Linked DNA regions of Homo sapiens: region 1 is linked to region 2. Evidence: fine-mapped QTL for protein levels in blood plasma. A gene starts in region 2. The other region holds a variant in brackets. All regions are shown on one strand. Distances are from middle to middle. Region 1 has its middle 58 kb from the start of UNC5C-AS1. Region 2 holds the start of UNC5C (unc-5 netrin receptor C).

Region 1 (16,052 bases), 58 kb after region 2:
GCACTAAACTTTTAGAATATTGAAAGCTATCAAAATACTCTTTTTCTGAATATGGCAACTAAGAGAGAGACACTGTAGTCCTATAAGTCTTATCCACATGAAAAAATATATTGCAGTATGATGAAAGGAGATAAGAATATTATATTACAAATTTGAGCACAATCTTTAAGAATAGCAGTATTGCTACAGTGGGTTGAAAAAAATAAAAAGAAATTTCCCTTTGTGGGTAATAAGACCATGTTTATTCTGTGAAGCAGTATTAATATTTTGATAAGGGCAAGATTTAATATTAAACTTTAGATGACCAAGAACTTGTATCAAGCATTATCCTTTTTTGAACAGCATATTACTCTTGCCAAAGATAATTTCGTTTTTGATTTGGGGATGCTCAGGACTCTTGAGAAAGTGAAGATACATGGAACTGATGATACAAGTCTGTGAGGCCAAAGCTCTCTATTGTGAAAGATAGCTAATTAATAACCTTACTATTGATTAAAATAAAACATGTCAAAATTATCTCTATCAGTCAGTTTACTGTGATCATCATTTGTATATAAAATACTCTTCATGGCATACATGCAGAAGTCCACTTGCCCGATCGCCTAGGAAGGCACTAGAAGGTGCATCCTTTTGGTCACCTACTCATGCCATCCCTTCTCCAGTGTAGATTGTATACAGTAACAATTAGGAGATGACATGGGAGTCTGACAAGGAAAGATTATGAGATTATGTCACTTTGAAATTTGTTTTCTACTATTTTACCACATTAATGACTCATAGCGTTAGAATGAATTCAGTTTTAAGAAAGTCGTTTGAGGATATTCAGAAGTAGGTTTATAAATGTAAGAGGAACTTAGAATTTCTTTGCTTTCTCATGATTTTTAATTTGTTGTTTTGGTTTCCTTTCTTCAGTATGAGCCGTCATACTGAAACCCAAGCTCGATCATCTCTACTTCCAGGAGGTGGGAGGAGATCTTTTCGTTTGAATTGTGAAACTGGTTGCCTTTCAGAGACAAGCTATCTGTGTATGTGGAGAGGAAGAATATATAAATAAGTAAGATAAACAAAATAGAGTATTTCCATGACAACTCTACAGAACCAAAACTGTATAATGAATCCTTAGATTTCCTTACACTTTACATACTTGAGAAAATTGAAACAAATGATAAACCATGTTAATTTTTAAATATAAAGGCAGAACTAGGTTTATGCGATAAAGACTTAATTACGTCAAATTCGCCCACATCCCCTACCCTCCATGTCATCCCACTTCGGCTTCTCCAAATACTTCTGATATTTGTTTTGTTTTTCATCTCAAACATCAGTCCACCTTTAAGTGTTCCATGGAATTTTTTTCCACACTTGTGTTGAGTTGTTTTAAAGAGTTAAGCTATGTGCGTTGTATGGTTTTGTCCATTTGATTCCTAAAAAGTGTTTTGAGGTTGATAGTATCCTGTTTTATCAATGAGGAAACCAAGTCTTAGAGGGATTAGATTACTTGCCTAAGCTCATGCCATCAGGAATTGTTGCAGCCAAGTATTGACCATAAGTCAGTCAGACTTTAAAACTTATACTCCTATAAGTACAGAAACTTTTAAAATTTAATTCTCTGGACTTGTCTAAGAGAAGATCATGTTACTTCATGACAGCATTCAGATTAGTCACTTCTTTTCTCTATAAGTGCTTTCTAAGTACTGTAGGTAAACTCGCTGTAGGAAAGAAAATTATTAAGAGCCTGGAAAGCTCAGATTTAAGTCCTGCCTGAGCAGATTATGTAGTCTCAAGGTTTCAGTTTGCTCATCAATGTGGGGGTAATAATATTCACCTCATGGGTCATTGTGAGGATTAAGCGTAATGTCCCATGTAATTGTACCTGGCACATAATAAGGAAGAGTTTTAAAAATGAATTAGTATGCTATTGCTACAGTCCTGGACTAGATAGGAAAAATGAGCGGATAGAGAGTTTAAAATCTAATTGAGGAGATGAGCAACCAATATGTGGGTAATTTTAGGACAGTTGTAATACTTGTTTAAAATTATGCCAATGAATTATATATGTATGTGTACGTATATGTGATGTACACACACAGACACATGCATGCGTGCGCATGCACCTGCCTGAATTAGGACTAAGAATAACAAAGTAATAGGAGGGATATATGGTATGTATAGAAATATTTCCTGGAGCAGGTGCATTTCAGTATGTTAAAGTGATGAATAGTGCTTGAGTTTAAGGGGTGAGAGAGGATAGGCAGGAAACTACACATGAGAAGAAACCACTAAAGAGGAACTAGAGTGCCCAACTGAAAAAGAATCTTGAGATGTTTCCAATTTATGTATCCTTCAAATAAAATAATGGAAAATATTCTTGGTGCTTTTCAGATTCCAGGCATCGTTCTAAGAACTTTCTGCTAACTCAGTTCTCACAACTGTATGAAAGAAGTGCTATCCGTGTTTCCTTTTTTACAGGTAGGAAACCGGGGCCCAGAGATGCTGATCACTTTGCCTAGGTTCACAAATCTAGTGAGCAGCATATCCAGGATTGCAAATTCAGGATGCTAAACCCAGAATCTAAGGGGCTTGTAGAGAAGCACTTAGCACATGTTGGGAGGGGTGCATGGGGAGGGAAATAACCCCTGGAGGAATGCACTAGGGAGCATGGCTTAACATTAAAGAGCTGAGACTGGTGCCACTTCTTACGTCAATTGAGGGTCAAGCCCAAATGCTTCCCGTTCAATTCCTAAGAATCAGAGGACCTAAAATTTATCTTTGAGGTATAAACCATGCAGAGGTTGACTGGAAATTTGGCTTCCAGGAAGGGATAAGTGAGTTGGATTAAAGGACTAAGTTCCATCTTTGTAACAAGCACTCACATAGAATAAGGCAGTGACAAGGGGATGTGCACTAAATGTAAGTCACAGTATAGAAGTCCAAACAACTGGGGTTAGGATGAAGCTTGGGAAGGAATTTAGAGAGGAAGGAGAATATTTTACCTAATATTTAGTAATGATATACAGATGAAAGTTTGGGGGAAATAGAAAGGAAAGAAGGGAGAATAGAGAAACAAGACATCATTCTGCAATCCCTGAAGTTTTCAGCCTGAGTAGCAGGTGTAGTGGAAGTGCTATCAATATTAAACAAAATTAGGAAGGTATAGAAATTAATGTGAAACAGAGGAAATTCAGTTTTCATAACGTTGTGATGGGGGAAATTTCATCTTGTCTATGAAATACATTTCCCTCTGAACAATTTTAATATAAGAGTTAAATATTTCCAAATACAAATTATTGAGTTACTTATTAACAAAATATAATTAATGAAAATTCTTGAAAGAGTATGAGAAAAAGACATTGAGTTTATTTTATGTGGGGAAAAAAGGTTCAGGGGTGATACAATGCTTATACACAAGTTGTGTGTGTGTGTGTGTGTGTGTGTGTGTGTGTGTTTAATTGTATCATCTCCAAAAAATAAAAATTAGAGGGAAAAGAGATATTAAATACTAGATCTGGCTTTTATGACAAGTGGCCTTTCTATATGTACATCACTGAAAATGGAATTTGTATCAGGCTGGAATATTTGAATAAATTTCAATCAGCATGACCTGTCATATTCTCTTTTTAAGTTTTGTGGCTCGATTTCATTGAGTTCACTGTTGTCATCAGCTCATATCCACAACATAAAGCATCTGCGTCACAAAGTTTGAGTTTGGAGAGCCCAGAGGCTTCCAAAATTCATGGAAATAAGTTCCAGAAGGCTTTGACCTTTGGGAAGTCCCAGGCTGTCTTATCTCCACTCCACGTGGAGTGGCCTTTCATTGAAGGAGGCAACAAGTGGTAGTAAGACTCTAAAACTTGCAAAATCAATGGAGAAAGCTACATGAAATGACATCTTCAGATTTACTTGTGATTGGCACCTGATCCCTATTTGAGAATCAAAAGGTTGTCATAAAGTCCATGTTTTATTACTTTCTTCTTTTATATCAGGCAACCCCCAAATGGTTATCATAAAGCCCCATCTTTGCCCTCAGTAGTAACCAAGGCAGACAGGCAGGCAGCTACAGGGTTGACCTATATAGGTTTGGTGGAAAGTAGGGCCCTTGGGTCCCACCTCTCTGGCCAACAATCTATAACTGATTTTCACTGAGTTTTATTTAGTTATCTAAAGGAAAATCCAGTTTATATCTTGGTTGGAGAATTGGATTTCCTTGTTCGATGGCTGTATTTTTATGGGTATAATCTTAAGTGGCCAAATCTTGAAGGGTGACAGCTGTGGTTAGGTTAGTAGTGAGCCGCCTGAGGATATTAGAGTTCAACTTGTACAAAGAGCCAAAATCAACTCTTAAAAATATTCAGCTTTCTCATAAGATTTGCTGGAGGCTGTTCTCCCCAGAACTCTTAAACTTGGATATCACCAATGATCTACAGATTATTATAGCTCGGAGCCGTGCTGAATTTTATCATAGACTGATGTTTAGTTGTTCTGATATTAGATGATCCTCATATGTCTTAATATTTATGCAGTTATACTCCCCAAGTTAAAATGAGTGGACTATAGTACAACTACATGATTTTTAAAGGTGCTTCTTAATTATATTTTCTCTTCTACTTCTATTTACCATTCACAATTTGGAAGATGAACATTGACCCAAACTGGAGAATAAAAACTGCAACAGAATTTTAGTTTAATAGGGGCAGGGATTTTAAGCCTGCTTGTACATGGCTGTATCACCAGTAGAACAGTTAAGTGCCTGGGAATTCACAGGAAAGCAATACAATTTGTTAAATAGTTCTTTTTGATTCAAATGCAAACTTTTGAATAAAAACACTGGAAATTATATACATACCAGAAAATCCATACACAAATGCACATGGCTCTTTTGATACATTCAACATGTTCTAAATGACTGCAATGATTATGTAACCATTGCTATTTACTACAGAAATATAATTACTGTGTTACTACCTTTAATGCTCCATATATCACCGCCTTTCTAGAGGAGTTTCACAGAAGTCTGGATTCTTGGTTTTATATTGGTTCATGTTTCGTATCCCTGAGAACAACAAGAATGTCCTGCCCTTTTTCTTGCTCTTTTACTAACTCCAAATATAGTTTCAAATACCTTTCTAAACTACCTGGTTTAATTTAAGAAAGGATACTACAGGAGAGTAAAATTAGAGTGTAGGTGAAATGAAATCTGCGCATGGCTGGCCTCTTTAGATATAATTTACTGATGATTAGATGAGATTATACAGAACTATTTGGCTGCAATGGTAGACAGGAAAAAGAAATGGAAAATTCTTTAAGGTGATGAACTTGTGTTGACATTTACAAATGACCTGCGCATAGCTCTGTACTTTCTTTTTTTTAAGACGGAGTCTAGCTCTTTCACCCAGGCTGGAGTGCAGCGGTGCAATCTCGGCTCACTGCAACCTCCACCTCCCGGGTTCAAGTGATTCTCCTGCCTCAGCCTCCCGAGTAGCTGGGGTTATAGGCACGCACCACCATGCCTGGTTAATTTTTGTATTTTTAGTAAAGATGGGGTTTCATTATGTTGGCCAGGCTGCTCTCGAACTCCTGACCTCAGATGATCCACCTGCCTCGGCCTCCCAAAGTGCTGGTATTACAGGTGTGAGCCAACGCACCTGGCTTGTATTTTCTTTTTTAGTATTGCTCCAGTATGATTGGTTGATTAAAGCATTAGACACACACACACACACGTGTGTGTATGTATATATAAGTTATGCCGCTGAATTTAACATTTTAATGCTAGAAGCTGATTCCCAGTCCATGTGTTTAACTTACAGCACTGTACAGAGTTTTAGGTGTCATCCATTTATACTATAAAGGAGCATTTCTTGTGCATTAGTTGGCCTCTTATTGGCTTCCAAGGATTAATATGATTTATAAATAAAATGTATAAGGAGAGCCTTTATGGGAATTGAGGCTCTACTTATACATTTGAATGTGGTGAAAATGATTTTCTGCTTTTTTTTTTCTTTTTTGTTCTTTCCTCCATCTGGAAAGTGGCCTAGAAGAGTGCAGGTCTTTATGGCCTCTCTGTCAGCTTTACTGGAGTCCACTTCCAGCTACCTGAAAAGAGAAAGAAATTCCTAACCTGGTCCCCAACCATAAGGAGTCAAGGCTCCAGAATGACAACAGAGCCCTACTTTTTGAACTTGATGGAGTTAGGGCTGTCCGTTCTCCTTCTTCTTTGTCATAGATAGCTTGAGAAGTGCATATTTCTCCATTTTGAAAATCATGTGTCTTTTAACATCACTGTGAGACTATTCCTTCCCCTTCTTTTTCCTGGTAACATCCTTTGAATTTTTCCTTTGGTTGTGCCTGTATCTTTTTTCCTGAATAATATAAAAGTTTGTTTGGCTCTAGTCATGCAAATAAAAGTTTCCTACCCATGTCTAAACATAAAATGTTAATAGCGAAAGCAGTTCCCAAAACTTTGTTTCATACAAAATTAAGCTAATTTTGCCAGGTGAGTGACAAAGGTATCCGAGCTCAATTTGACGTTTCTCCCATTTCAATGTGCACCTCATCTAAATCGCTTAGAGTCACTTAGAGGGCAAAACTGAGTGATAGATTTATCAGTTCTTTATGCCATCCATTTTTGCAACCTTTAAGAATATAATAAATTTAAAAATTACTTTATGTTTGGCATTCTCTAAAAAAAAGAAAAATTGTTTCCTTTCTCTTTTCTTTCAGAGTAAAAGACAATGCCCTCGGGGTGGGGGTAGGGGAAACTCAAGGGCTTAAATCTCTTACCTAATAAGTCATTGAAAGCAAATGGCCTTTTAAATGTATTTGCCTTTTTATCTGTGGCTGACAACCCACCTCACTGGGTCACTACCCACTAGCTCCTGGTTTTTATGCTAACAGCGTTCTTCCATGAAATGGAAAAAGGTAGAAAAAGCAAAAACAAACAAACAAAAAAAAAAAAACACACCAAAATAATACAGGTAACTTTTTTTATTTTTTGAGAGTGAGTCTTGCTCTGTCGCCCAGGCTGGAGTGCAGTGGCGCATTCTTGGCTCACTGTAAGCTCCGCCTCCGGGGTTCA[T/C]GCCATTCTCCTGCCTCAGCCTCCCGAGTAGCTGGGACTACAGGCACCCGCCACCGCGCCCGGCTAATTTTTTTGTTATTTTTAATAGAGACGGGGTTTCACCATGTTAGCCAGGTTGGTCTCGATCTCCTGACCTCGTGATCTGCCTGCCTCGGCCTCCCAAAATGCTGGGATTATAAGCGTGAGCCACCGCGCCCAGCCACATGTTTTTTTTTTAACTGCTATGTTAAAAGAAATACCTTCTCTCACTCTTCACAAAAGGGAACACACGCATAAGTTAAAAAAAATGCTCTTTTAAAATGGGAGGAATTATACCTAAAATAGAAACAGAAAATAACTAAGCATTGTGGGCTAGCAAACTTTGGTTTTGTTATTCAAAGACCAGATACTTCTCTGCAGATTTGAACACCAAGAATTCTTTAGTTGTGTGATTTTTATGGCATATGTATTATTTAATATGCCAATGTACGTCCTGGGCCCATGGGAAAGGAGGAAATGGAGAATGCACATGTTCACACAAACGTGGGTGAGCACCCCGACGGCCAGCCAGGCCACATGGTGGTTAGGAACCACAGGCTCACAGGAGAGTGGCTTTCACAATGTGAGCAATGGAACTCTGTTTCCAAATAGAAACTTCTTTTATTTTTTAACTCTGCAGTTTCTGAGTACTGAATGGTCTCTTATTACCTTTTTCGAGTAAACTATAGACACTCTAAGTGAGAATTCCTATTATCCCGAAGAAAGAGATTAAATACGTGCACTTTTACATAACATGGTTTAGAAACAAAATTTTAGCTTGACACTGATGTAGGTGCCTAGAGTACAAGCATAAAGAACAGAAGCCCAGGTATCTTTTTGCTCCTGAAAGGTGCTTCTGGTTGCATGAGACAAGTGTTCTATATTGGCATTTACTCATCTGTGTTGAATATTATTGATTTCCTATTGTTTTTCTCACTCTTTTCGCCCCTGGTTCTAGTAATTGTTTGTATGTGTGTGTTTCTGTGCAAGTGATGTTTCCTACTTTGGTCTTTCATTTGCTAATTCGAATATTTCCCATCATAAATTGGTATGATTTGGCTCTGTGTCCCCACCCAAAATCTCATCCCGAATTGTAATCCCCACATGTTGAGGGATGGACCTGGTGAGAGGTGATCGAATTATGGGGGTAGTTTCTCCCATGCTGTTCTCATGATAGTGAGTGAGTTTTTATGAGATCTGATGGTTTAAAAGTGTGGTACTTCCTCTGCAATCTTTCTCCGTCTACTGCTGCCCTGAGAAGGTGTGCCTTGCTTCCATTTTACCTTCTGCCATGATTTTAAGTTAATTTCCTGAGGCCTCCCCAGCCATGTGGAACTGTGAGTCAATTAAACCTCTTTCCTTTAAAAATTAATCAGTCCCTGGTTATTCTTCACAGCAGTGTGAAAATGGACTAATACACAAATGAAGTCCAAAGTCGATCTTGAAGATTGGTTGTGAAAAATCTAATAGTAGAAACTAAATACTTTGCTTTTGCATTTGGAATATAAAGGAACATTTCTCTAGGGGGAGTGGAGAATGGGGAGTTATTGTTTAATGAGTAAAGAGTTTCATTTTGAAATAGTGAAAAAGTTGAAAAAGTTCTAGAGATGGAAAGTGGTAATGATTGTACAACAATGTGAATGTTTATAATGCCACTAGGCTGTACACTTAAAAATTGATAAAATGGGCGGGGCGCGGTGACTCACACCTGTAATCCCAGCACTTTGGGAGGCCGAGGCTGGAGGATCATGAGGTCAGGAGATCAAGACCATCTGGGCTAACACAGTGAAACCCCATCTCTACTAAAAATACAAAAAATTAGCCGGGCAAGGTGGCGGGCACCTGTAGTCCCAGCTACTTGGGAGGCTGAGGCAGGAGAATGGTGTGAACCCGGGAGGCGGAGCTTGTAGTGAGCTGAGATCATGCCACCGCACTCCAGCCTGGGCAACAGAGCAAGACTCTGTCTCAAAAAAAAAAAAAAAATTGATAAAACAGTAAATTTTATATGCATTATGTATATTTTATCACAATTTTAAAATAGCCCATTTCTAAAGTCTCTTTCTATATTTGAAATAATTTTTGGTATAGAATAAATATAAGTATAAATATTCTGCCAGGATAATAGAAAGGAAAATTGTATTAATAAATTTGACTAGCACTATGTTTTGTTAGAGATATTCTCATGCTCTCAAAATGATGATCACCACTTTCCAGAAATACCACCCAATAAACATAGTTAATCATCAAGAACCTTTGTTTTTTCCCTTGTTCAATTTACCAACAGCATGAATATAATTCTCTTCATTTTCTAACAGGCAGTCCAGAGTTACATTTGTTAGTTGTGAATCATGGATTTGATATGGGTAGTTCTCTTTTATATTTCTGTTGCTTTAATTACTAATTATAACATACATTAAATAATATGTCTTATTTCATCTCATCAATTTAAGTTGATAATTAAATGATATTTGTACTGTTTTATGTTTTTATTAGTAACTAAAGCATCATTAAGTATTTTTAATATCTCACTTGTGTATTTTGCATGTCATCTATTCACTTTTATTGTTAGCTTTCTACACCTTTTTTTTTTTTTTAGGTGAGTATCACTATGTTGCCCAGGCTGGCTACCAACTCCTGGGCTCAAGTGAGCATCCTACTTTGGCCTCTCGAGTAGCTGGCATTACTTGTTAGCATATGTAAAGCATAAGAAGATCAACTCTTTGCAGATTTTCTGTTTTTTTTTTTCTTTTCTTTTTAGGATCTTTTGTTGAGCTCCATTCAAACATATTTTATTTCTAGAATGAAATTATGATTATGCAATCAACATAATCTAAGGTTTTATGAAATAAAGTGTAATTACAGTTAAAGAGTTCAAAATGGAATATATTTTCATCAAAAATGTATACTAAACATAATATGTCAAAAATTAAAATTATATTTCATCTATGTGTTGGTAAATTAAGATGTTTTCCTAATAACACTCAATTACACTAGTTGGGAGACAGTACTCTGAAACAATGTAGTTTATGCTTGAATCAGTGACCAATTCACTGTGTAATTTCTGGGCTTCAGGGGTAGACATGGGAATGGCTCTTCTCACTAATACATTTAATAACTCACCCACAGGATTATTTTTTTTGCTTCCAGTCCTTGCAACTTAAGAGTTACATTGCTTTAGAGCATTAATATTCAAAGGAGTAATGCATGACAGTGGTCATGAGAAGAATTCCGCTGAATTGGACTGCTACATGTATATTGGAATTTTTATGCTATTGAACCAATAGGCAAGAAAGGCTTGGTAAAGGCTCTCTAATGGCTGTGGTAATTATCAAGAAGAAATTGAGATCCTCCTTCATAATGAGGCTGTGGTGGACTATGGCTAGAACCTAGTGGTTTCCCTGGGGTCCCTTTTAATATTTCCATATCTGATAGTAAAATTTAATGAACAGCTACAGCAAGGTAAACAAACAGGTAAGAAACACTAGGGTTTCAGACTCTTTAGGAATGAAGTTTTGGTTCCTCCTGTAAGATAAAGAACCCCAACCAGCCGAGGTTCTCGTTGAGGGCAAAGGTAACATAAAATGGATAATGTAAGAAAAGTAATTAGGGACTCCTGGTCAATTGTATTATAGGCATGAGGGATTTAAACTCTGGGCATCTTTTCCCTTGCTTGTTACATATGCATGCCACTTTATTGCTTTCTTCAAGGATTGTTGTTTAATCTTGCAGTTTAGTCTTTAGGTTACTGAAGATTTACACAGAAATTTCTTTGATTAATTTTTAAGGAGGAAAGACAGTAGAAAGAAGGGCTTGTTTCCCTATGACTTTACTTCCCATTCTTGTTAGAGTCCCTTTGGCAATGTTTCTTTATCCTGACAATGGTTGTTGCTTTCAGTTTCCTGTTTTTGTTTGTTTGGTTTCATATTTCAGAACCAGCCTCATTATGTCCCCAAAGAGATACCAGTATCAGAAAGTTGGCATAGCTTCCTTAGCTACTAGTTCCAGCTGCGTGAGGATGTTTTTCCAGGCCCCTGAGGTACCAGCACTGTCTGGTTAGTATTATTCTTTAAAAGGTTTGGGTCTCAGCTCTGTAGGGCTACACATAAACTTCTAGGTTCTAAAAACCGAATCTTTTCGTTTTGTTCACCCCACTCAAAGAGTGGTAGCTTCTTTCAGCAGTTGCTAACTTTATATTACTCAGTGTTATATTTTTCCCCTTTCAGTCCCCTAAAACCTATTTAACAAATTTCTCATATTAAATTCCTTTTGTAAAGATAACTGGTGTGGATTCTGTTTTCCTGACTGGACCCTGAGTACTGTGCTATTAAATTGAATACAAATAAAAACATATTCTTTGAAAATATTCAAATCATATATTAAAATTAAAAGAAAATACAAATTAAAATTAGTAAATATATTTAAACTGAAAATTATATAAGTAAATGTGATAATTTTATATTTAAAAAATAAAATCTGATTTTAAAAAATTACAATGTTTGAATGTTTGAATTCTAACACTCAAGCCCATCTGGTTATGTGTAGACCTAAGCATATGCATAGTCAAGAGGAATCTGAATTGTCTAATGTTACAAAATGTTTTTCAGCCATCATGTGCAACTATTGTAAATACCACTCAAACTCAAGAGTACCTCTAGGGGCATTATTGGGAACACAAAGCAAAACAATAAAAATCAATGCTTGGCACTAATGAGACTGATACTTTGTTACACTGGAATTCAGTTCTTCATGGTACCTGGGAGAAAAGGTTTGACAAGAAAATTAATTTGTCATTTTTATTCCTGGAGCAATTTCACACACTCAAATCCCTCTCACTAGGAACCATGCTCTTCTCTTACATTTGCAGCAGCACAACCTGCAAGCCTTCATGGCTTTCCTACTCAGTGACCTACTTGAACTCATAGGACCAGAAATGTGGAGAAGCATTTTCTGTGGTGTCTTAATGGTCATATTCTGTTAGTGCTGAGTGTAAGATCAAAGTAAGGAGTTGCCTATGTGTGTTTGAATCCATTTGTGCAAGCACACACATGCACGCATGTGTGTATGATAATGTGGGACCCTATAAAGCATAAGAAACAGAGCAGGAGCCCCTCTTGTCTGCGGCCTGAGGATACTACCTGTTACCCTTAGCATATTGAGGTACTGCAGTGTTTCCTAGGTTTTATTTTTAAGGCTCTATAACTTATGTGATTATTTTCCTGGACTTTGTTTGGTTTGCTTCCTAAGCATTAATCTCTCTTTCCCAAACTCTTCTTTTTTCGTGTTTTATTCTTTCTCCCAGAAGGTTTTATTTCTTTACATTTCCATGATGTAAACAAGGCTAGAAAACTGGTCTTCCAGCTGTCTTTCATTGACCCGTTTTTCAAAGCAGCATCACACATTTGCAGTTTTCACAAAGTTTTTGCTTTGTAATCCACTCAGTATGTAATTCCTGGGATTTATATCTTCCTCAAGGGCTTCCATTGCAATTGATCAGTATGCTCCAGGAATCAAAGCCTCTGAAAACCTCTGATACAGTTATATTCCCATTGGCCCTGGCCTTCAGTAGAGCAGATAATTTTAAAGTTTCACTAGGAACCCCAAGGTCCTTCTTACTATGGAAAAAGAGTTAAAAATCTACCCCTAAAATTATGAAAACTTGAGTTCACTCTTGTCACCTCAATCACATATGCACATCCTGGAAACCCAGTGGATCTGCCCTGTTCAAATTAAGCTCGTGGGCCTCATCAATACGGAGGTCTTCTATTCTCTTTATTTCCACATCATGGAGGCAGCAGGAAGTTAAATAGGATTCCCTGATTCTCAAATATCCAGTTTTAGAAAGTGGACAAAATAGAGTCTTTGAGTTTTTCTGTAAAGCTGAATGTCTTCATCCCACAGACAAGAAGTCCTGGCAGGGAGTGTGGCCTGATCACCAAAAGCTTGTCATGTTATGGTGCCCTTTCCTTCTGCCTTCAACAATCCCAAACATTTATCTTAAAGCCTCACTTCATGTCAGAACTCGGTGGTCCCTACACTCTTCTAGTCCCAGAATTATTTTACATGTATACATTCATTTTATTTAAATATACATGGATACATTTTAAAGGATTTAAAATAATTTTTATTTTCAAACTTTATATTTTATTCCCTTTTTAATTATATACTGAACTTCGAGATTAATAACCTATTCATTATTAATCCTTAATATATCAACATTTTATATGGTAGCTTAGTCAAATAGAATTAAAATATATTAATTAATAAAAAGACTACAAGAGATTAAGTCCATTAAGAAACAGTAACATGAAACTGGGCATACACACTACGCTAGAGCAAACATACATAAATACTTTCCAGGCATTTTACCAAAGTAATTATTTTTTTCTGTATAATATCTACTTTAATGAAATATAATCCAAAGGAAATTTAAACATCTTTATTAATATAATAGGCCACTGATACAGAATAAGCCAACATTCCTTTTAGAGCTTTTTTTTTTTTTCTTTGAGATGGAGTCTCGCTGTGTCACCCAGGCTGGAGTGCAGTGGCGCGATCTCGGCTCACTGCAAGCTCCGCCTCCCGGGTTCACACCATTCTCCTGCCTCAGCCTCCCGAGTAGCTGGGACTACAGGGGCCCGCCACCACGCTCAGCTAATTTTTTTTTGTATTTTTAGTAGAGACGGGGTTTCACCGTGTTAGCCCGGATGGTCTCGATCTCCTGACCTCGTGATCCACCCACCTCGGCCTCCCAAAGTGCTGGGATTACAGGCTTGAGCCACCGCGCCCAGCCGAGAGCTTTTTTAAATTTAAAAACACAATATTAGAACTTTAGTACAGTCATATATCTTCTTTACCATTTGATTATGTCAGAATGATTAAATAAGCTTGATAATTATGAAGCCAACATAAAAAATTCACAGAATAATTGCAAAGCGTAATTTTCAATCTTTTGTTGATAAACACTATTCATACATCGAATAGACCATAATATAGCCTTTATTCTCAAGATGGATGGGAGCAGTCAGGTTCCTAGTAGAGGCATGAAAGAACTTAAGTGGAGACAGAGCATGTGTCATTTGCAAACATAAGTTCCCTCCTTCAGCAACACCCCCAAATACAGCAGAAAATTGCGGATGTTGTTGCATTTCTGTTGGTGTGCTTCACAAATTTTTTTAAAAAGTAATGATTGACAGTGCTATTTAAATTCTAAACATGGAAATTTGACTTGCCACGTTAGAGCTTGATATTCAGCAATGCGATAAGGGCTAACACTGACCCTCTCTTAGAAGGGATAGGTATTGCATTCTTTCATTTTGGTACTAACCCTAAGGAGTATCCAAATATTCTATCTGACTCACCTATATATCAAAAAATATGTTTGCCTGGCTCACAATCAAACAAATTAAAAGAAAAATAGGTGTTTTACAAATTCTGTCACTTATGCAGTCCCTTGAATGACACTGGTGGTCTGAACGCAATGGATTCATCTTATATTGGAAGCCTATCACCTATCTTTTTACCGAGTTCCCTACCCTATATTCCAGTTCATGACATTTCTTTGAAAACAACAATTAAGCTCCAACTTAAAATAAATAAATTTCATTCCCAAACTGAGACATTTATTTATTCCAGGCATTGGAGATTATACTGATATAAATGAAATTTAGAAATTTCATCTGTTAAGAAAGACATATAAAATTATAAATCTAGGAACTAAACTCATCAGTTTCAGGAAATGAATGTGGGGAGTGTTCTCTTTAGTGTGTAAATCATTTGCTAATGTCAGGAAAATAGGAGACAAAATCCTAAAGTACTAATTTTTGTATTATTATGTATTGTCAGTTACATGCATTTAATGTATTTTCATAGAAATTATAAAACTTTTCTTATGCCCTCTTAACTGCGGTCAGTGTTTTGGCATTAAATTCTAGCCAGATAATATGCTGGTTGAAAATGTTGATCTGATACCACACAAGCCTGGGCTTTGGAATGACATTTTTATCAGTTATTAACTTTATAATCTTAGGTAAGTAAACATTTCTCTATGTTTTCATTTTCTCACTTGTAAAATCAGGATATCAGTACCTACAACACAGAGTTAGTTGTTTAAGGATTAAATGACATAATGAGAGTAGAGATTCTTGCTGACAGTGGATTTAATGAGTGGCAGGTTACTTTTGTGGATTATTTTCATTATCTCCACAGAGTTTTTTTCTAGAGAAGAAAATTAAAGAAATAGACAACAACAAAGCACGGCTCAGTTGAAAGATGTGGGTGCTAGTTCTGCCACCAACAAGAATTTACAGTTTTATTCAATGACTCTGTACTTATCAACTCAACTGGACTTTTTTCTTTTTCTCATTTAAAAAATGGAATGATGATTTTTTTTTTTTTAAATGAGACGGGGTTCCGCTTCATTGGCCAGGCTGGTGTGCGTGATCATAACTCATTGCAACCTCAAACTCTCGGACTCAAGCAGTCCTCTCACCTTGGTCTCCCACAGTGCTGGGATTTTAAGTGTGAGTCATCATGCCTGGCCAGAATGATGATATTTGGTTTCCCGATTCAGTTATTTGTGAGGGTAAAGTGAGATAATATGTGTGAATTTGTGTTGAAAAGTAGTCGTATCTACAATATTTAGACTTTTGATGAGAGGACAAATGATTAGAATTGATATGAAACCGGTTATCAGTGTTTTTAAATTATGAAATAATGTATACAGATGAAAGAACATAACGTAACATGTAAAATTTTAAAGTATAACAATAAAATTATGGAGGTATCTAATCAGAAAAATAGAGCATACTGTGGTAGCAGCCAGGGATAAGAAACAGCACGGTTTTGACTTTGCCCTTATCATTATCTTGTACATATGTTTATTACCATGAATGCCATATTTTAAAATATGTATTATAAAATTTTTCTTATGCCCTCTTAATTGCAGCGAGTAGTATCTACACTC
Region 2 (16,052 bases):
TTAGTTTCTATAAAAGTTATGGAATACCACTGGCTAAAATATAATCTTTGATCTAGTTCTTCAAAGGGTTTTTAAGGCCATATGAAATTCCAAAAAGATATTAGAATTATTTAAAATATTGAATTTGAATACAAGTAACAAATATGCAAATTCATAGAGAATAGAAGAGTCCCAAATTGCTCCTTTTACCTTTAGTAAAGGTAAAGTAGTCCCCCTGCTTATCTGCAGTTCACTTTCTGCAGTTTCAATTACCTGAGGTCAACTGTGGTCCAAAAACATTAAATGGAAAATTTCAGAAACAAACAATTCGTAAGTTTTAAACTGCATGGAGCTCTGAGTAGCGTGACAAAATCTCTCAGACATGAATCACTCCTTCATCCAATGTACCCATGCTGTATAGACTCCCCACCTGGTAGTCACTTAGTAGTTATCTCGGTTATCAGATGAAAAAAAAGCAGTGTAGATGGGAGTTCCATACTATCTGTAGTTTCAGGCATCCATTGGGGGTCTTGGAAAGTATCTCCTGCATTTAAGGAAGGACTGCTGCACATGAATTTCTTTTACTTGTAATTATAAGTGGATACTTTTATATCACGTACCCCATTAGATTGCACTAAACTTCTATTATCTAAGAGAATGTATTTTATGAATTAATTTAAAATGATCACTTTTATCTACAAATGCTGTGCTTTACTTCTGTACTACATATTTATATTTTATATTATTATATACTCTAAGTTTTTTTAATTTTGAGAAAACCTGCATTTCTATTTATGGATATATTTCTATTTATGGATATATCCCTTACAACTGGACTGTAGATGCATTTTAATAAACAAGCACTATTCTGTTTTTATTGGAAAGAAATATCCACATATAAGGTGGTTCTTCTGAACAGAAATAAAAAGAGAGAAAACAATAAATAAGAATAGAGTTCAGGCAGTCCATGATTAAATAATCAATTAAGAGATTGACTAAAACTGAGAAATACTAGCATGCATCAATGAACTTGTTAAGTGTGCTGAGGGAGTTTCTGTTGTTTCACATCGTCAGTTAGAAGAGGATATAATCCATGGTCATCTACATGAGGCATTTTTATAGCTCTCATAATTGCTGAGAAATGAAACTAGCCACAGGATCCACATGACAACATGATTAATGAAGATAAAACCCCCTATCCTCACAACATTTTAAAATAAGTAAGACTGGTAACTCTGGTGTTAAATCTGAGTAATCAATATCATCTGTTAATATGATTATTGTGAGCCCTGGTATTTAAAATAAGAACTCTAACAGGCATATCTATATAATGAAGTTTCACCCGGCTCCCCTCACGCTCACATTCCACTACCACGTTGGCAATAAGATGTGTTTAGTTATTTAACTAAAAGAGGGTATTCACCAAACATGGGGATTTTCAGATGTTATACTTCACTTTTGCCACACAAGGCACTTTTGAATCACTGCTCATTGCTAATAAAAGCTATACTGACCTAAGGACAAATATCTGCATATTTGGCACTTTCAAAGCTATAGCTCACTTTCTAAATTGTAACTTCAACTTAATTAATGTCATGGCAACTTTAACACTATGTACTCCATGTAGAAGGGGAGGTATGTTTTAAATACTTATAAAATCTGGAAACATTCTTCTGTGTATTTCAAAATCTCATTATATATGAGCAACATTTTGGGGAGCAGCAATGCTCAAAACAAAAAACCACAGTACAACTTCAACACAAAACTATTTTTTTAATTCTGAAATTTCAGCTCAATATTTTCAAACATATTGTTCATAAAGAGTCCAAATATCTGCAACATGATATATGTTTTGGGTTTTCATGAAAAGGCAGAAATTCTTCTGGTGGCTCCATACAGGTAGACAGGATAAAAAAAAAAGTTTTCTATTTCTGATCTTGTTAGCTCATAAAAGTGTTCCTATAAAATGTTTTTATTAAAATCTCTGTAAGTTTGAAAATAACAAATATTTAAAATAAGAGAAACTATAAATTATCCCATTACTAAGTTTCTTTTTTTAAAACTAGAAAAAAGGGAAACACTAGTGTTTGAATATCGCTCAAGGCAAACTTACTCTACTTCAAAGTAGCATTAAAAAACAGCACCAAGTTTCTGTGAGTAAAACATCCTTGAGCTAAGAGATACTGGAATAATACCAAAGGTCTCATATTCATGTAGCCCTCCTCCACAAATACATAAGCAATAACAAATCCAAGTAAGAAATGAAACCAAAGAAGCATCCATACATAGGTTTAAGAAATCAGGTTAAAAAAGAAAGAGTGCAGAACCAGAACCAATAATAGAAGCAGAATGACAATTTTGTAGGAGAAAAATCTAAACCGTAAGTAATATAAAATGCCCTACAAATCTCTTATTTTATCTCAAAAGTCTGACAGAAAACATTTGCTCCAAACATGCAAAGAATGGCAATAACCATTAAACAATAAGAGTTAGATGCAAATATTTCACCAAAATATATGTCATCTAGATTATCTGTGCTGTTTTAAATTAGGATAACGAAACTTCCTATTGCAAATATAGTTTGAATAAATGAAAGTTCTGGTGAATTTTCTTTGCCTTCGTGTTGACCTATTTTTATGTTTATTTTGTTTGAACAGAAAACCAATTATGTTCTTTAGAGTATATACTTGTGTCCATTTTCTTTTAAAGAAAAACTGTCCACATTCACATAAAGGTCTGATTTTCCCCAAACCCTTATCAGAAATCCTGGGGTGTACCTTTTTTCTGTAATAGTGTTCATGGATTTATGAAAAGTTATCTTTCAGTATCCCTTGAGAAAATAGAAAGTCAAGGACGAGCTTCTTGCAAGGACTTAACTGGGAGTGACTTAACGTGTCATTTTTAGAACTAATATTAGGTTAATTTTCCCAGAGAGAACAGAAGGGAAGAAAAGAGACTGTGGAAGGGAATGAGATTCCCACAGGCTGTTCAGAGAACTGTACTCTGTCCAGGAGTTTACAATGATCTACTCCGCAGCATCTCTTCAGATAGCTCCATTTCTTGCTTTTGGGGAAGCAGTGTCAGCAGCTATCATCACTCTGAGTTCAAAATTATTGACCTTTAGTTTCTTTTACATCTAGATTTCTTTGCCAACGGTTTGTAGAATTGAAAGTCAAGGAATAATACTTATTTTCTATGAGCTAAAAGCTGCTCTAATTGTAACCTGTAGTATATATTATCCTCATTTTTACATATGAGGAAACTAAGGCACGGAAACGTTAAATGTCTTGCTCATAGTCACACAGCTGGAGGTGCTGGAAGCAGTATTAGGAAACATTGGTAATCACTATGTTAACTGACAGAATGGGCATACACCATTAACAGCTCTTAGCCTGTGCCTCCCCAGAGCCAGATGAAACTTGCATTAAATCTAAGTAAAATGCTGTTGCAACGCAAACTTAGCTTCAAGAACATACAACTTCCAGCCAAATCACTGCTCCCACGTTCTTCTGTGTAGAAATTTTAGAACCCCCCACCCACCACTCACATTAGAATCCTAGCTTCACCTATGTTTACTATCTTCGGATGTCTGAATCCAGAAAGTACTATACCTGTGTCCGCTTTTATACTTAAGAAAGTGAATTATAATTCCATGGTTCTACTTCTGTCTTCCTGTAGGGCTTAAACTGCCTGGTTACATTCCGTTTCTAACAAATAGCATTCAGCCTAGGATGCAATATGAGTGCACAATAATTGCTTAAGAACTTTACTTCTAATACCATACTCTATCCATAGAAGCCATTGTTTCTAATTTGTGAGGAAATGTGAACAGGTTTGTTTTTAACTGCCACAAATATAAAAGTCAAACTAAAAAAATATGTAGGCTAAAACTTCAAGGCAATAGCACTGGCTCAATCTCAACCCCCACAATTTTCCCCATTATCTTCCTAAAGTGGTTGCAGCCTGTAATTTTAATGTTTCTTCTGAGAGTGACTCCCTCTGCTGCTTCTGCAAAGCCATGACCTAAATCAGAAAAGTGTTAAACGCAGTTAAGGCCTAATAGAGCACACTTGCTGTTGGCACTAATTGGAGAACCTAGCATACATTAGAGAACAGTTATGTTTAAGTCTCAACAATAATTCTAAATAAGCTAACAGGGTTTACTTAGCAGAGCTCATGCCTTGTTCATGTCCTTAGGGGGGGTTGCTTAAAATAGACCCATACAAGTTCTGACTAGGACAACCAGCTCCAAACTACAATAGGAGGTGTTCGAGGACCCTGTCTTATTTAACTCTTTACCCTCAGTATCCAGAATACAGGAGTCCAGGGAGTCAATAAATGTCAGTTATAATCTAATGATTCCTAATTCTTTGCAAGTGTTTGAAAAGTTTATTCTTTGAAGATTTTAAGCATTCTCTAAGCTAGAATACACAAAATTATTTTTCTAAACAGAAGTAAACTAGCCTACTTTTCCTTATTGCATATTCCTAATGTGAATTCATAAACTTTCTGTACTCCTACAATGAAAAAGTATACGATAGAATTGTAATGAACTTTAGTTGTCTTCACTGTTGACTGTCTATTTGTACCACACCAATATGCAAACATGCATAAAGGAATTTTTACTCTTTTGTAGGAAGACATATGTTATTTAAAAAAAAAAACTATGAATTAAGATAATAGGGAATTATCCCAATCTAATTAGAGACTTCAGTAATTTTTTGTCCTGAGTTTGGTGGTGTTAACACTCATAACACTAGTTGGAGCTAGATAAGCAGCATATCAATGCTGTGTAGCCCAGATAAAATGCATTTATAAACCAGGAGGGTCCTAATTCAGAAGCACACTGATCTCACACACACGCGCGCGCGCGCACACACACACACACACACACACTGCCTTTTACTAGTAAAATCTTTCATTCTTGGAAGTCACAAACACTACAAATTCCCTGGAGCTAGGAGTTCCCAGCAATCCTGAATGAAACAATTAGGGCATAGCCAGAAAGGAGAAAGTTGTTGCCTACAGCCTAGAGAATTTCCCAAGGACCTATTGAAAATGACTGCTGCCTAAACCACAGTTACAAAACTCAGTACACTCACAAATAATGCCTATTCTATGTTTTATCTTAAATATCTGTTGTTTCCTTGATTATCTCTGAAGATATATATACATACTTCTAATTTTTGCAGTACTTCAGCAACAGAATAAAAACCTCATCCACATTGTAAAGTGCTTAAAGTAACTTTCCCATGTTAATTGCTCTTGGACTTTCATTCATAAGAAATAGTTCATTTGGATCTTTAAGTCATCACCACAAGGAAATCATACCTTGAGGGTATGGGCTAGTGTTCTAGTCCAAGGAAAGGAGAAAGAAGAAGAATAAGAAGGAAAAGGAGGTCTGACTATCAGACCATTTATAAAATGTGTGATTCTGCAAGGAAAGTGTTAACGGTGGCTCAAGATAAACAGGCTGGGTTACTGTACTGCAGTGATGAAGGTAGTAGCTGATAGTGGAGTTTGGTGCTTTATCCTTCCTTTGATAACTAACAGACAACACAGGAAGAGCTGCTATCCCTGGAACATGGAGGATAACAAAGATAAAAGCGGTGGAATAGTGCATTTTACAGACCATGAGATTCAAACAAAAATTTTACTAATCAAAAACTGAAGGAACTAAATAAACGAAATGGACAAGAACTGCAGTGAAATGCATACACCCAACGGAGTACATTTTCTTTTTCCACTTAAGATGAGAATCAGTCCCCAATCTTTAACTTGCCTACGCTACAAAAAGTGCAAGAGAAAAAGTCTATCCTAAGCATCTTTTCTTTTTAATCTCTTCTCCCTTCTTCTTTCAATATTAATCCATTTACAATCTGCTGTTTGATTATCTTTATTGATCCTTTTTCTACCCAGTCTTTTTAATTTGGTTATTGTAAGCTCTTAGCAGGAATCCTATCTCTTGTTTGGCATCTTTGGGGACTTTAACTTGTCTTTTTCCCAAACAGTTCTCTCACCGTGCCCCGTCCCCCTCTCCCGCCACCCACCCCCATGGCTCAGTCCTTTGTATGCCCAGTAACAGCAGGCGAATTCCACAGGGAGTCGCGCGGTTGATTCCACGACTATTCATAAGGTTGTTCACTTAAGCTTCCAAACACCCCCCTCTAAGCACCCTTGGCTAGCGCCCTGAGAACTTCTTATCAATTTTAGGAAATCCACAAGCTATGATTCTCGGTGGAGATTCCTTTTTAAATAGACAGACAGATGAACTCTGGAGGTGTGCATAAGAAAACCAGAGCAGAACCTCAGGGATGGGAGGCATCTGGCGAGAAAGGAAGGAAGGATTTATGAGCAGGGCCACTTAGCAGGGCAGCAGGAAAATTTACTTCCGAAGAAGCTATCGCTAATTCACAAAGCCTTGCTAATCACTTACCTCTCCACCCAGACCGCACTCCTATGCTAGGCGCTCTCCTCCGCTTCCAACACCCCCATCCCCACCCCCAGCGCCTCTCTAAGATCAGAGGGAATGCTGTCCGGAAACCCTAGGGTGTCTGAACATCACCTGGGGAGTTGGGGCTATCGTAAAGCCTCCCTTTACTCTCCAAATTTGGAAGGAAGAGTAACCGAGAGTGAAGGGAGAATCCCTGAATTGCCTCTGAATGCTGCATAAGCTTCCTTCATTCTCTCCTCTTCCAGGAAAAGCTGAGCTGCCTCGCCTGAGCCGGCTATCACCACTGAAGTGGGCTAAGAGACCCAAGTAGGAGCTGGGCTTGGCCAGAAGTTTTGGGGCCCAGGTGACCTGAAAGAGACCCCGGAGGGGACAGCCTTGGCTCTTTCTTCTGCGCTCCCTTCCAGTCAGCTTTCCCGGCTTTGAAGGCTGGGAGCTGCTGCTAACACTTCAAACTAGGCGGACAAGAAGGGAGCCGGGCGATCAGCTCCGGAGCCTCCCCTCCTCCCTTACCCATCCCCAACTCCCGGCCACACTCTTCCCAACCCGGCTTCGCCCAGGGCCCCGGTCACTTATGTTAAAGTTCACAGGCGTTAAATTAAAATGTCAGAGTTATAAACTGGTCGACTACCCCGGGGAGTTTCGGATTTGGTTTGAACAAGCAGCCGGTTCCCCCAGAGCTCCGGGATTTTCATTTCTACATCCCCTGGTGGGAAGCAGGCATGAAGCGGGGTATGTATGAGTGCAGAGGCATGCACATCCCGGGCCTGCCTCCAGCCGGGTACGCGGATTCGGGTGAGCTGTGTATTTCCACAGCACCTGAAGCAGCAGGCGAGGGGGACGGGTGCTTTTGAGTCCTTGACAGTAATGGACACATTTCCTTAGCTGAGCGCCCTTCGGGGTCTAGTGTGCTCAGAGACTCAGTGAAGATCCTGCTACCCCAGTCTTGGCACAGCGCGGGGAGCCTCTGCGCATCATGCGCTTCGGGGTGCATCTACGGTATGTCACACAGCCACCCGCACCGAGAGTCTTTCCAAACCTCCGTGTGTGCAATATGCAACAACGTGCGCGTGCGGAGCTGAAAGGGCACAAGACACTCCAGGCTCCCACACGTATGGAGACGGATCGGCTGCGTGTCCACACCCCGTTCGTCCCTGGTCCATTCGTGCCCATCTCAGAAGATAGATTAAACATAATAATAATAATAATTATTATTATTATAATCAAAGCTTCTTGACTAGTTGGGAAAGTGGAATTTAGAGTGGTTTCCAGTTGAAAGCAACGAGGCAAATTGAGGAAGTCAAGAGAACTGGGGAGGAGGAGAGGAAGGAGGGAAGGAAGAAGCTAAGGGAGGTGGCCGCGGAGCTTGGCGGACCCCCTTACCTTGGGCGGCGGAGCCAGTGCCGCTGGCGCTGAGCAGGGCCAGGGCAGGTAGCACGAGCATTTGCAGCAAGTATCCCAGTCCCAGTCCGCAGCGGGCCGCTGTCGCCCGCAGACCTTTCCTCATCGTAGACAGAGGTGTGCCGGGGGGAGGGGAGGGGGACAGAGAGACGCGCAAACAGCTGAAAGCCCCACTGGGCAGAAGCTGAATCCGTGCACCGCGAAGCAGTCCGAAGAAATAACGACAACCAAGCGCCACACTCCACTTTCTCCAAAGGCAGGGGCCAAAAGGGGGAGGAGAGGAGACGCCGAGGAGGAGTTTGAAGGTCCCTCTTTCCCAATGCCTTCTAACTGACGTCTCCCGCGAGCGACTGCTCTGCCCCCACTTGGGAAGTCCAGGGAGGCGCAAGGCGGCCACCTCCGCCGCTCCCCCCAGCAGCAGGAGCAGCCGCAGCTCCGCCGCACGCCGAAGTCTGGACTGCTCTCCGGGTCCCCTCGCCTGTGAGGAACACACACAGACACCGGGGGTGGGGGTGGGGGTGGGGGTTGAAGTGGGGGGAGTTGGAGGAGGAGGGAACGGAGGGAGGAAGCTTGGGCACCGTCAGGCGCTCTGGTCTCCAATCTCAGTGTTCTCACGCCGGCGGAGAGATGTCCCGGCTGTCGCTGCTGGGTGGCCAAGGAGGTTCACATCCTAGAGTAGGGCGCACGGGTGCGCGAAGGCGCTCGCCAAGGAGGCGTAGAGGGCGCAGCACAACTCCTCTGGGGGGTAACCGGGGGCGGGAGCACGCCCGCCCGCCTTATGTAAGCAAGGATTGCAGGGAGATCAGCGCCCAGGAGACCAGCTGTGGGTTTGCCCGCTGAAGCCGAGGCGAGACAGACCAGGGGACGAAGCGGCTGCGGAGAGTGGCAGCGCGCCTGCCTCCCGCGGTGCGCCAGACCTGGACGCCGGGAGTGCAGCGGGCGCGCCCCGGGCCACTAGGCTGTGTCCAGTGGAGCTCAGCCTGCCGCCTGCCACCTTCTTCGCCGCGCCGGCAAAGCCTCAGCCGAATTCCCTAGGACTGGACTCGGTCTACGACTTCGGGTCTCGCGGTTGACGAAGCCGGTGCGGGCTCGAACTGAAGTCCTTCTTGGTTGGGGAAGAAGGCATGAAGCTTTTGCACTGCCCCAGCCGGCTGCTGTCCTGGGGTTGTCAGCGCCAGTCAGACTGCTTTATGTTCTGAGCGCGTATGACCCCTTTGCAGTGGAACAGAAACTAAAAGCTCGACGGAAACTCATTCTGCAACAGTGCTTTCTTTGCGTGCATGTTGGTGGCTGACAAGGGTGGTGATGCGATACCGAGAGAAACTCTCTTAGAAAAAAAAAATGCAAAGCAAAATTTGTAGATACTCAAAGTGATGGTGGAGCCTATAACATGTTTTTCAAATTTCTAATAGTGTGTGTAAGAACTCGAGCTGCTATGAATTTGTTTACCTTTCTACAGGAAATAATTGTCTACGTAGCTGGGTTGTGAATCCCTGTGGTCATGATGGAGGGATGCAAGATTGGGTGGGTAAAATAAGACTAGACAAAAGGAAAGTGAATTTATTAAAAGGTCAACACACAGACACAGACAACATTTTGGGAAAAAGAAAATCACTTCCCAAGATTAGCATGTCTTTAAACTAATAATACATCAGGGAATTTTATGCTCTTGGTGCCAAGGGGGCCATGTGTAAACACGCATGCACACACACACGCAGGAAACATGAGGTCTAATTTTGGCTGTGGTCATAACTACTCTGTTACCCTGGGTAAGTCAGGTAACCTGTGAATGTCTCAGTTTCTTCATTTGTGAAATATTTTGATAGTTTCAAAGTTCTCTTAAGTTCTAACATTCTATGATTCTGCCTGCACAGCCCCATCTAGGCAATAAGACCTATCTCGGATGAATCAGGGAGATCCGAAAAGGTAGTATTTGCCAAAGACATTGACAAAACTGGCCACTTCTTATTTCTGTGGAGACTCTGTCCACCACACAAAACCCTTCTTCACTCTCTTCATCTTCTCCATACCAAGACATCAAGATATTTGACAACAGGGTGGGTGCTGGCACCAGACTGTCTGCCTTCAGTTCTTAGCATTTCTTATTACTTGACTGATATTGAACATTAAAGCTAGGTGCCTCTCTTCCCTAATTTGTAAGATGGGTCTAGTAACAGGAACTATCTCATAGGGTTATTTGAGGATTATGTAAGTTAAACATATGTAAAATGCCTGACGCCAAAATTGTAAACTGCTGTTCTTACCATTGATGAAAAATTCCCATTAGCCTCATGCTATCTACACCAGTGCTGTTCAGCAGAAATTTCTGCAATGAAGAACATGTTCATATCTGTACTTTCTGAGGTCGTAGTTATGAGATACATGTGGCTACTTGCATGCAATGTGGCTAGTGTGAATTGGAAATTTTTATTTAATTTTAATTTAAATAGTCACATGTGGCCAGCAGCTACCATATTTTATGGTGTATCGAGGCCACTAATAACTTGTCAAGTATTTTGAGAATGACTTCACAAGGGATTATTATTATACTTTATATTTATATGTACAATTTTACTAAGAAGGACAACAGCTTAAGTACTAAGAAATCTCCACACATACTCACCATCACATCAACGACATCCAAAAGTTATTTATTTACAATTTTATTGCCTGTCTTCTTAAATTAGAATTTAACTCTTTTAAGACAGAGATTTTGCCTTTGTTCATTATTTCAACCACAGCTCCTAAACTGAGCCTGATATATAGTTGGTACTCAATCAATATTGACTGATTTCCTGCCAAAAAAGCTCAATGGGGAAGACTCCTCAAAGTCTAGGACAGCTAAAGAAGGTTGAAATTGTCGCCTACTCCTGTTTGGGGTATTGAGGTACTCAGTGACAGATACCACATGCAATTAGTTCCTTAAAATAAAGAATACGAGATTAAAAGAGGAAATGTAGTTAAATACTGAAATTCAGCCTAAAGATGGCAGGAGAATGGTTTGAGAAGTGGTATAGAGTAATGAGGTGGAAAAGGGGGAAGAGAGTGAGAGCACCACACAAAGGACAGGAAAAACACCAGCAATACATCAGCTTTACACAGCAGGCAAGTTTCCTGCTCTCTACAAGTACAGATGGAACTTGTCTTGTGAATTAACATCCTGACTACTTTTGTTGATCATCACATTTTTTCCTCATGAGAGAAATAATAGTGTTTTATAGGCTCCTGAGAATAGGTTTACTAAAGTCATCGAGATCTGGGTTCAAATGACACTGCTTAGGGAGGCATTCACTGATCAAGTTACCTAAAATAGCAACAATCTATCATCCAAAATATCATTTGCCAGCTTTGATTTTGCATATAACACTTACTTTATATATGTACATATATGTGTATATATATATTTGTGTGTGTGTGTGTGTATACATGTATATATATATGCAGTCTGCAATAAAATGTATGCTTCTCAGGGGAGAAATTTTTTTCTAATACATTCAGTGCTCTATACCCAGAACCTGGAACAATACCTTGTACATAATAGGTGATCAATAAATACTTACTGAATATTGAATGGATTGAATCAGAACCAATGGATTTAAAATTGAGCTAAGTCCTTCATTAAACCTTCTTCCTCTCCTCTTCAGCCTCTCAAGTTATCAAATTATGAGTAGGCTTTTCTAGTTGTTGAATAAAATCAAGTTTTGCCAAATTTTCACCAAAAATTTATTGGAATTTGACTTTTTAGGGTTGGAATACTGCAGGTGTTTAAGGAACAGACAGGAAATTCATCTCATCTTGAAAAATGAAAAGCTTCATTTAAATCCATATACAAGGGCTTTCTTTTTCTTGGCTGCAGTGAGTGGAGAATTAACTCTAGGATAATAAATCCCAGTGACAGGTGCTAATGGGAATTAAGCATGCAAATCCCCTGCATATCCCTCCAGAAATCTACACCAAGAAAAGTATGCTATTTAGCATGTAGGCTGCTTCATAATAATATCATTTACTCGGAACTAGTACTGAAAAAGTTTCCAGTTTAAAGCTTAAATCAAAAACAATTGATCATATATTTTAATTATGGAAATATTTTCTTTCATTGTATCTCTCTCCTTATATGTTTGATTCCTCACTTTTTATATTTTTTGTGTAGGTTTAAAAATAAATCTTCATACCAGGGATATTATTAACTGCATTAACTGGCAACATAGGAGAAAGAGGATTTTAGTGAATAAATAGGATGGTGATGAGGAAAACTCCTTTCCTACAAGTTGGGAGTTCAGAGACCTCACATAATGTTACTGATAGACATCAACGAAGGAGAGCCAGATGGTCTAGATTCAGTTGATTCAATCCTCCTTCCCTGCCTTAGCCCAGAGAAAGAGATTTAACTTGTCATAAACCAAAACTCTCTAGGGCTTTCTGCTTTTTATTAATTCTATTAGATAAGACCCATTTGGTTGCAAGTGAAAGAAACCCAACTCGAACCAGCTTAAGCAAAAAGATAATTTATCACTGTGCATAACTCAAAAACTATGGATAAGAAATATCTATTTAATAATAGATACCATTTACTATCACTCACTGTGTGTCAGGCACTTTCTAAGCTCTTTACATGTGCTATCTCATTTAATCATCATAACTGAATGAAAGTGCCATTATTATCTCCGTTTCATAAATGAGGAAACAGAGTGGTTATGTAACTTTGCCCAAGGTCACACACAGTTAGTATTTACTAGCGACAGTCTGATTTGAGGGATGATGTCTTAGACCCATGAATTTAAATATCACTCATGGGACTTAGTACTTCCCCCCACCCTCAATATCTTGGTTATGCTCTCCTCTGTTTTGGTTTCATTCACAGACTTATGATCTCCATCCTGGGATTCCCAGCAGCTCCAGGTTTACATTGTCTTTATCATTGTCAATCTCAACACAAAGCACACTCGTTTCCAAATGGCAAAAAATAAATACAGAATTATGGCCCTGGCCTATCTTGGGCCACATACTCACAACTGAGGCAATTACCATGGCCAGATGTTTGGCATATACTGAATGGCAAGGCCTGGTCATGTGCCAATATTTGCCAACTGGAAACTTGGATTGAAAATGGGGATAAGGGGTTCTCCAAAAGGATACAATAGAAAATGATTAATACAAAAAAAAAAAAAGATGCCAAAGAGAATGGATGTAGGGCAGACAAAATAACAAATCCCTATTCTGTGGTATATGAGGCAAGATGAGTTCTCCAGGCTTTTGTGCAACAACACATCACTGTAGCAAAAGAAGAGCACTAGTTAAGAAAGGCTGAAGAGCAGCCAGCCCCCTGTGGATTGCTTTTCCCATTAACTGACTGGAAGAATTAAATCCAATTCAATTCAGAAAACTTTCACTTCCCCCCTGTTATATTGTGGTTCCACTCTAGGATCCCTAGGGAAAAATATGCATGAGGTATAGTCCTTGTGTAGCAATGGCTCAGAATCTTACAGGCAATATAAATGAATAAACAAAAGGATTTTAAATAAACACAAAAATGTTGTGGGAATATAAGGATATGGGAGCCTGAGAAGAAGATTTACCTAAAAGTAAGACACACACTTGTGTATCAGCAATACTGTTCTTCACACAATGGGTGTATTTATCTCTAACGATAAGGAACCTGGGAGTAGACAGTACATGGCCACTGTGGAAGCTCAGTTATGCTCTTTTCATGTCTTGGCTCCATGCTCCAGAATGTACAGCTTTCATTCTCACAGTTGCTTGATAGCTTTTCCACCTCCAGGAGTCATGTTTCACTTTTCAGGCAGAAGAAGGTGGAACAGTCCTGAGGGGCTGCATCTAGCCTAGATGCCTTCCAAATAACTTTTCTGGAAGCCCTCAGCCCAAGTAGTTTCCATTTCCTTGACGGTCTGTCAAATAGCCCCCTAAGATCAATCACAAATGGTGGATAAGGAGAAGGGTGTTGTGCATGTTGGCCAGATCATCTGAGTTGGACACAACTCTGTTGGAGAGGAGCAACAAGGGGAAGGCACAGAAAGAAAGACATTAAGACAGGGCATTTGAGGGTGTATTTGAAGAATTACAGGTAAATGAAAAATAGTTCTATAGTTGGTTGAGAAAAAAAGGAGAAAAGGGAGGAAAGTGTTTTCTTTTTTCTTTTTTCTTTTTTTAGAGATGGAGTCTTGCTATGTTGCCCAGGCTGGAGTTCACTGGCTATTCACAGGTGCAATTATAGGGCACGACAGCCTTGAACTCCTGGCCTCAAGTGATCCTCTTGCCTCAGTCTCTGGAGTCTCCAAAACAGGGGAAGGGTGAGTGTGTTTTCTATCACATTGGGAAATAGAAAGATGGAAAGGACTCCATTATTCAGTTCACTAAAGTGTATTTACTGAACTTTTGGAAATTGTGTAGCATTGAGGTAGAGTTTCATGGAGTTTATAGTTGGACTGTAGAAATAATATTTATAAAAAAGAAGCAAAGCAAAAAATAAAGAAAGATACCAGGAAAGATGGAGAAAAAAGAAAGGAAAGGGAGAAAAGAAGAAAGGATGCAGGGGACAAAGGAAGAAAGGGAAAGAAGAAAGACAAAAAGAAGAAATAAAGGAAGAGATAAATAAAATCCAGTGTGATTTCTGCATTGGTGTAGCATGTTGTAACTGCTATTAGAGGGAGCAAACAATGAAAAGGTCAATAAAAACTTAAGGAAAATAATAGAATATCTAATTTAGAAGAGTATTACTGGGGATAGAGATTATAATTATTGCTTACCAGAGCTTTTCTAATATCTCATTTTATTTTAAATTTATCTGCCAAGTTAGACCATAGTCGTTTTTCTCATTTTACAGATGGAAGAAATAAAATACATAATGGAATGGTGGGAAGACTCCGGATCAGGAAACATGAATTTAAGTCTCCATTTATCTAAGTTATTTGCTCAGAAATCCCTGTAAGTTCTTTGCACGTATTTGTTATAAGAAATGATAACAATATGAATGCACAAAGTTCCTGTGACTATAAAATCTGTGTGAAAGTGCTTTGTAATATGTCTATACTGAAGATGTCATTATGGTAAGATATGCTTTACATTGTCTATTGTACTTAATTTACATAATCATCTGAAGAATAGTATTAGTGATGTGGCTTTCTATACATGAATGATACCACCCTAGTATAACCTCTGGAGCTATTCTCAGTATCTCCCTCCTTTGCCCACATCACCTATTCAATTACTATTTTATAAGTCCATTCAATTTCACTACTTAAAGGGCTACAGGATCTATCCCATTATCACCAGCCCTACAGACTCACAATATATTTGCTTGTTACCGAGAGGTCTTGTAATTATTTCCTTAGTAGCTAGTTTGCCTTTACATTCTAATCCATGCTCTCCACACCTCCCAGAAAGACCTTCTAAAATGTAAAACCTGTCATTTTACTGTCCTAAAATCTTATTCAATGATTCCTCACTGCCCCAGACCTGCTTTTCCAAAGACCATTACAGGGAACTCCTGTCCTTAAAAAAGCAGTTCTAGAATGAACAGAGGATGATAGGTTGCAGTATTCTTTATTCTTTACTCCTTTCCAGTTAATAGAATTACCCGATTATTTCCTTTGCACTATGCCTTGCAGGACCACCCACTGCACTGTGGGTCGTACTGGCTTCCTCTCTCACTGATGGTAGCTTAGCCATGGGACTTGCTTTGGCCAGTGATCTTGGGCAGGTGCTACAGTGTGCCAGTTGCTCCCATTGCATACCTCTACTCATTTTCATGTGCTCTCACCATTAGTCCTAAGGCATTAGAACATTTTCCAGGTAACCACCAAACCAAGGTGGATAAGAGACACATGGAGAGATGGGCAGCCTGGAGCCTTGTGCTTGCTGTGTGGAGCCCAGAGCCTGAGTTGCATCAGACCAAATGACTCATGAGCAAGAAAAAAAAGGTGCTTGTGTTCAGCTACCGAGTTCAGGGTTAATTTTTTATGCAGCACTGTTGCAGCAAGAGGTGTCTAATGTGCCTAGTGTGAGAAATCGTGTCCTCAGATTAAGCTCAAGATAAATAAAATGACAATCTCCCTGATAGTATTACTAAGCTAATAGAAAATAAGACAGACTATAGAACTAAATAGGCTGACTCTGAAAAGTGCGGTGAGAGAGTTATAGAAACATCACTATGGGAGATGAGAGGAAAGGACACTTACTTCACATTGAGGAATCAGTGAGATCT

The links. PIP is the chance, under the fine-mapping model, that this variant and not a neighbour inherited with it causes the effect. Protein levels are from the aptamer-based SomaScan assay of Sun 2018.
Region 1: its variant is fine-mapped to the plasma level of the UNC5C protein (Sun 2018, PIP 0.95).

Annotation. Positions count from the first base shown.
Region 1 is chr4:95,599,309-95,615,360 of GRCh38, forward strand. No RefSeq gene overlaps it. Among named protein-coding and RNA genes, the nearest start is that of UNC5C-AS1, 58 kb to the left of the region's middle. The variant T/C (reference allele first, on the strand shown) is at 7,073.
Region 2 is chr4:95,540,921-95,556,972 of GRCh38, forward strand. It overlaps UNC5C (unc-5 netrin receptor C), which reads right to left and starts at 8,053. Exons shown (of 16, transcript NM_003728.4): 1 at 7,814-8,053. The coding sequence starts at 7,937. UNC5C-AS1 (UNC5C antisense RNA 1) reads left to right here and starts at 8,228. Exons shown (of 5, transcript NR_183914.1): 1 at 8,228-8,311; 2 at 14,001-14,139; 3 at 14,673-14,773. RefSeq lists an enhancer at 8,495-8,624.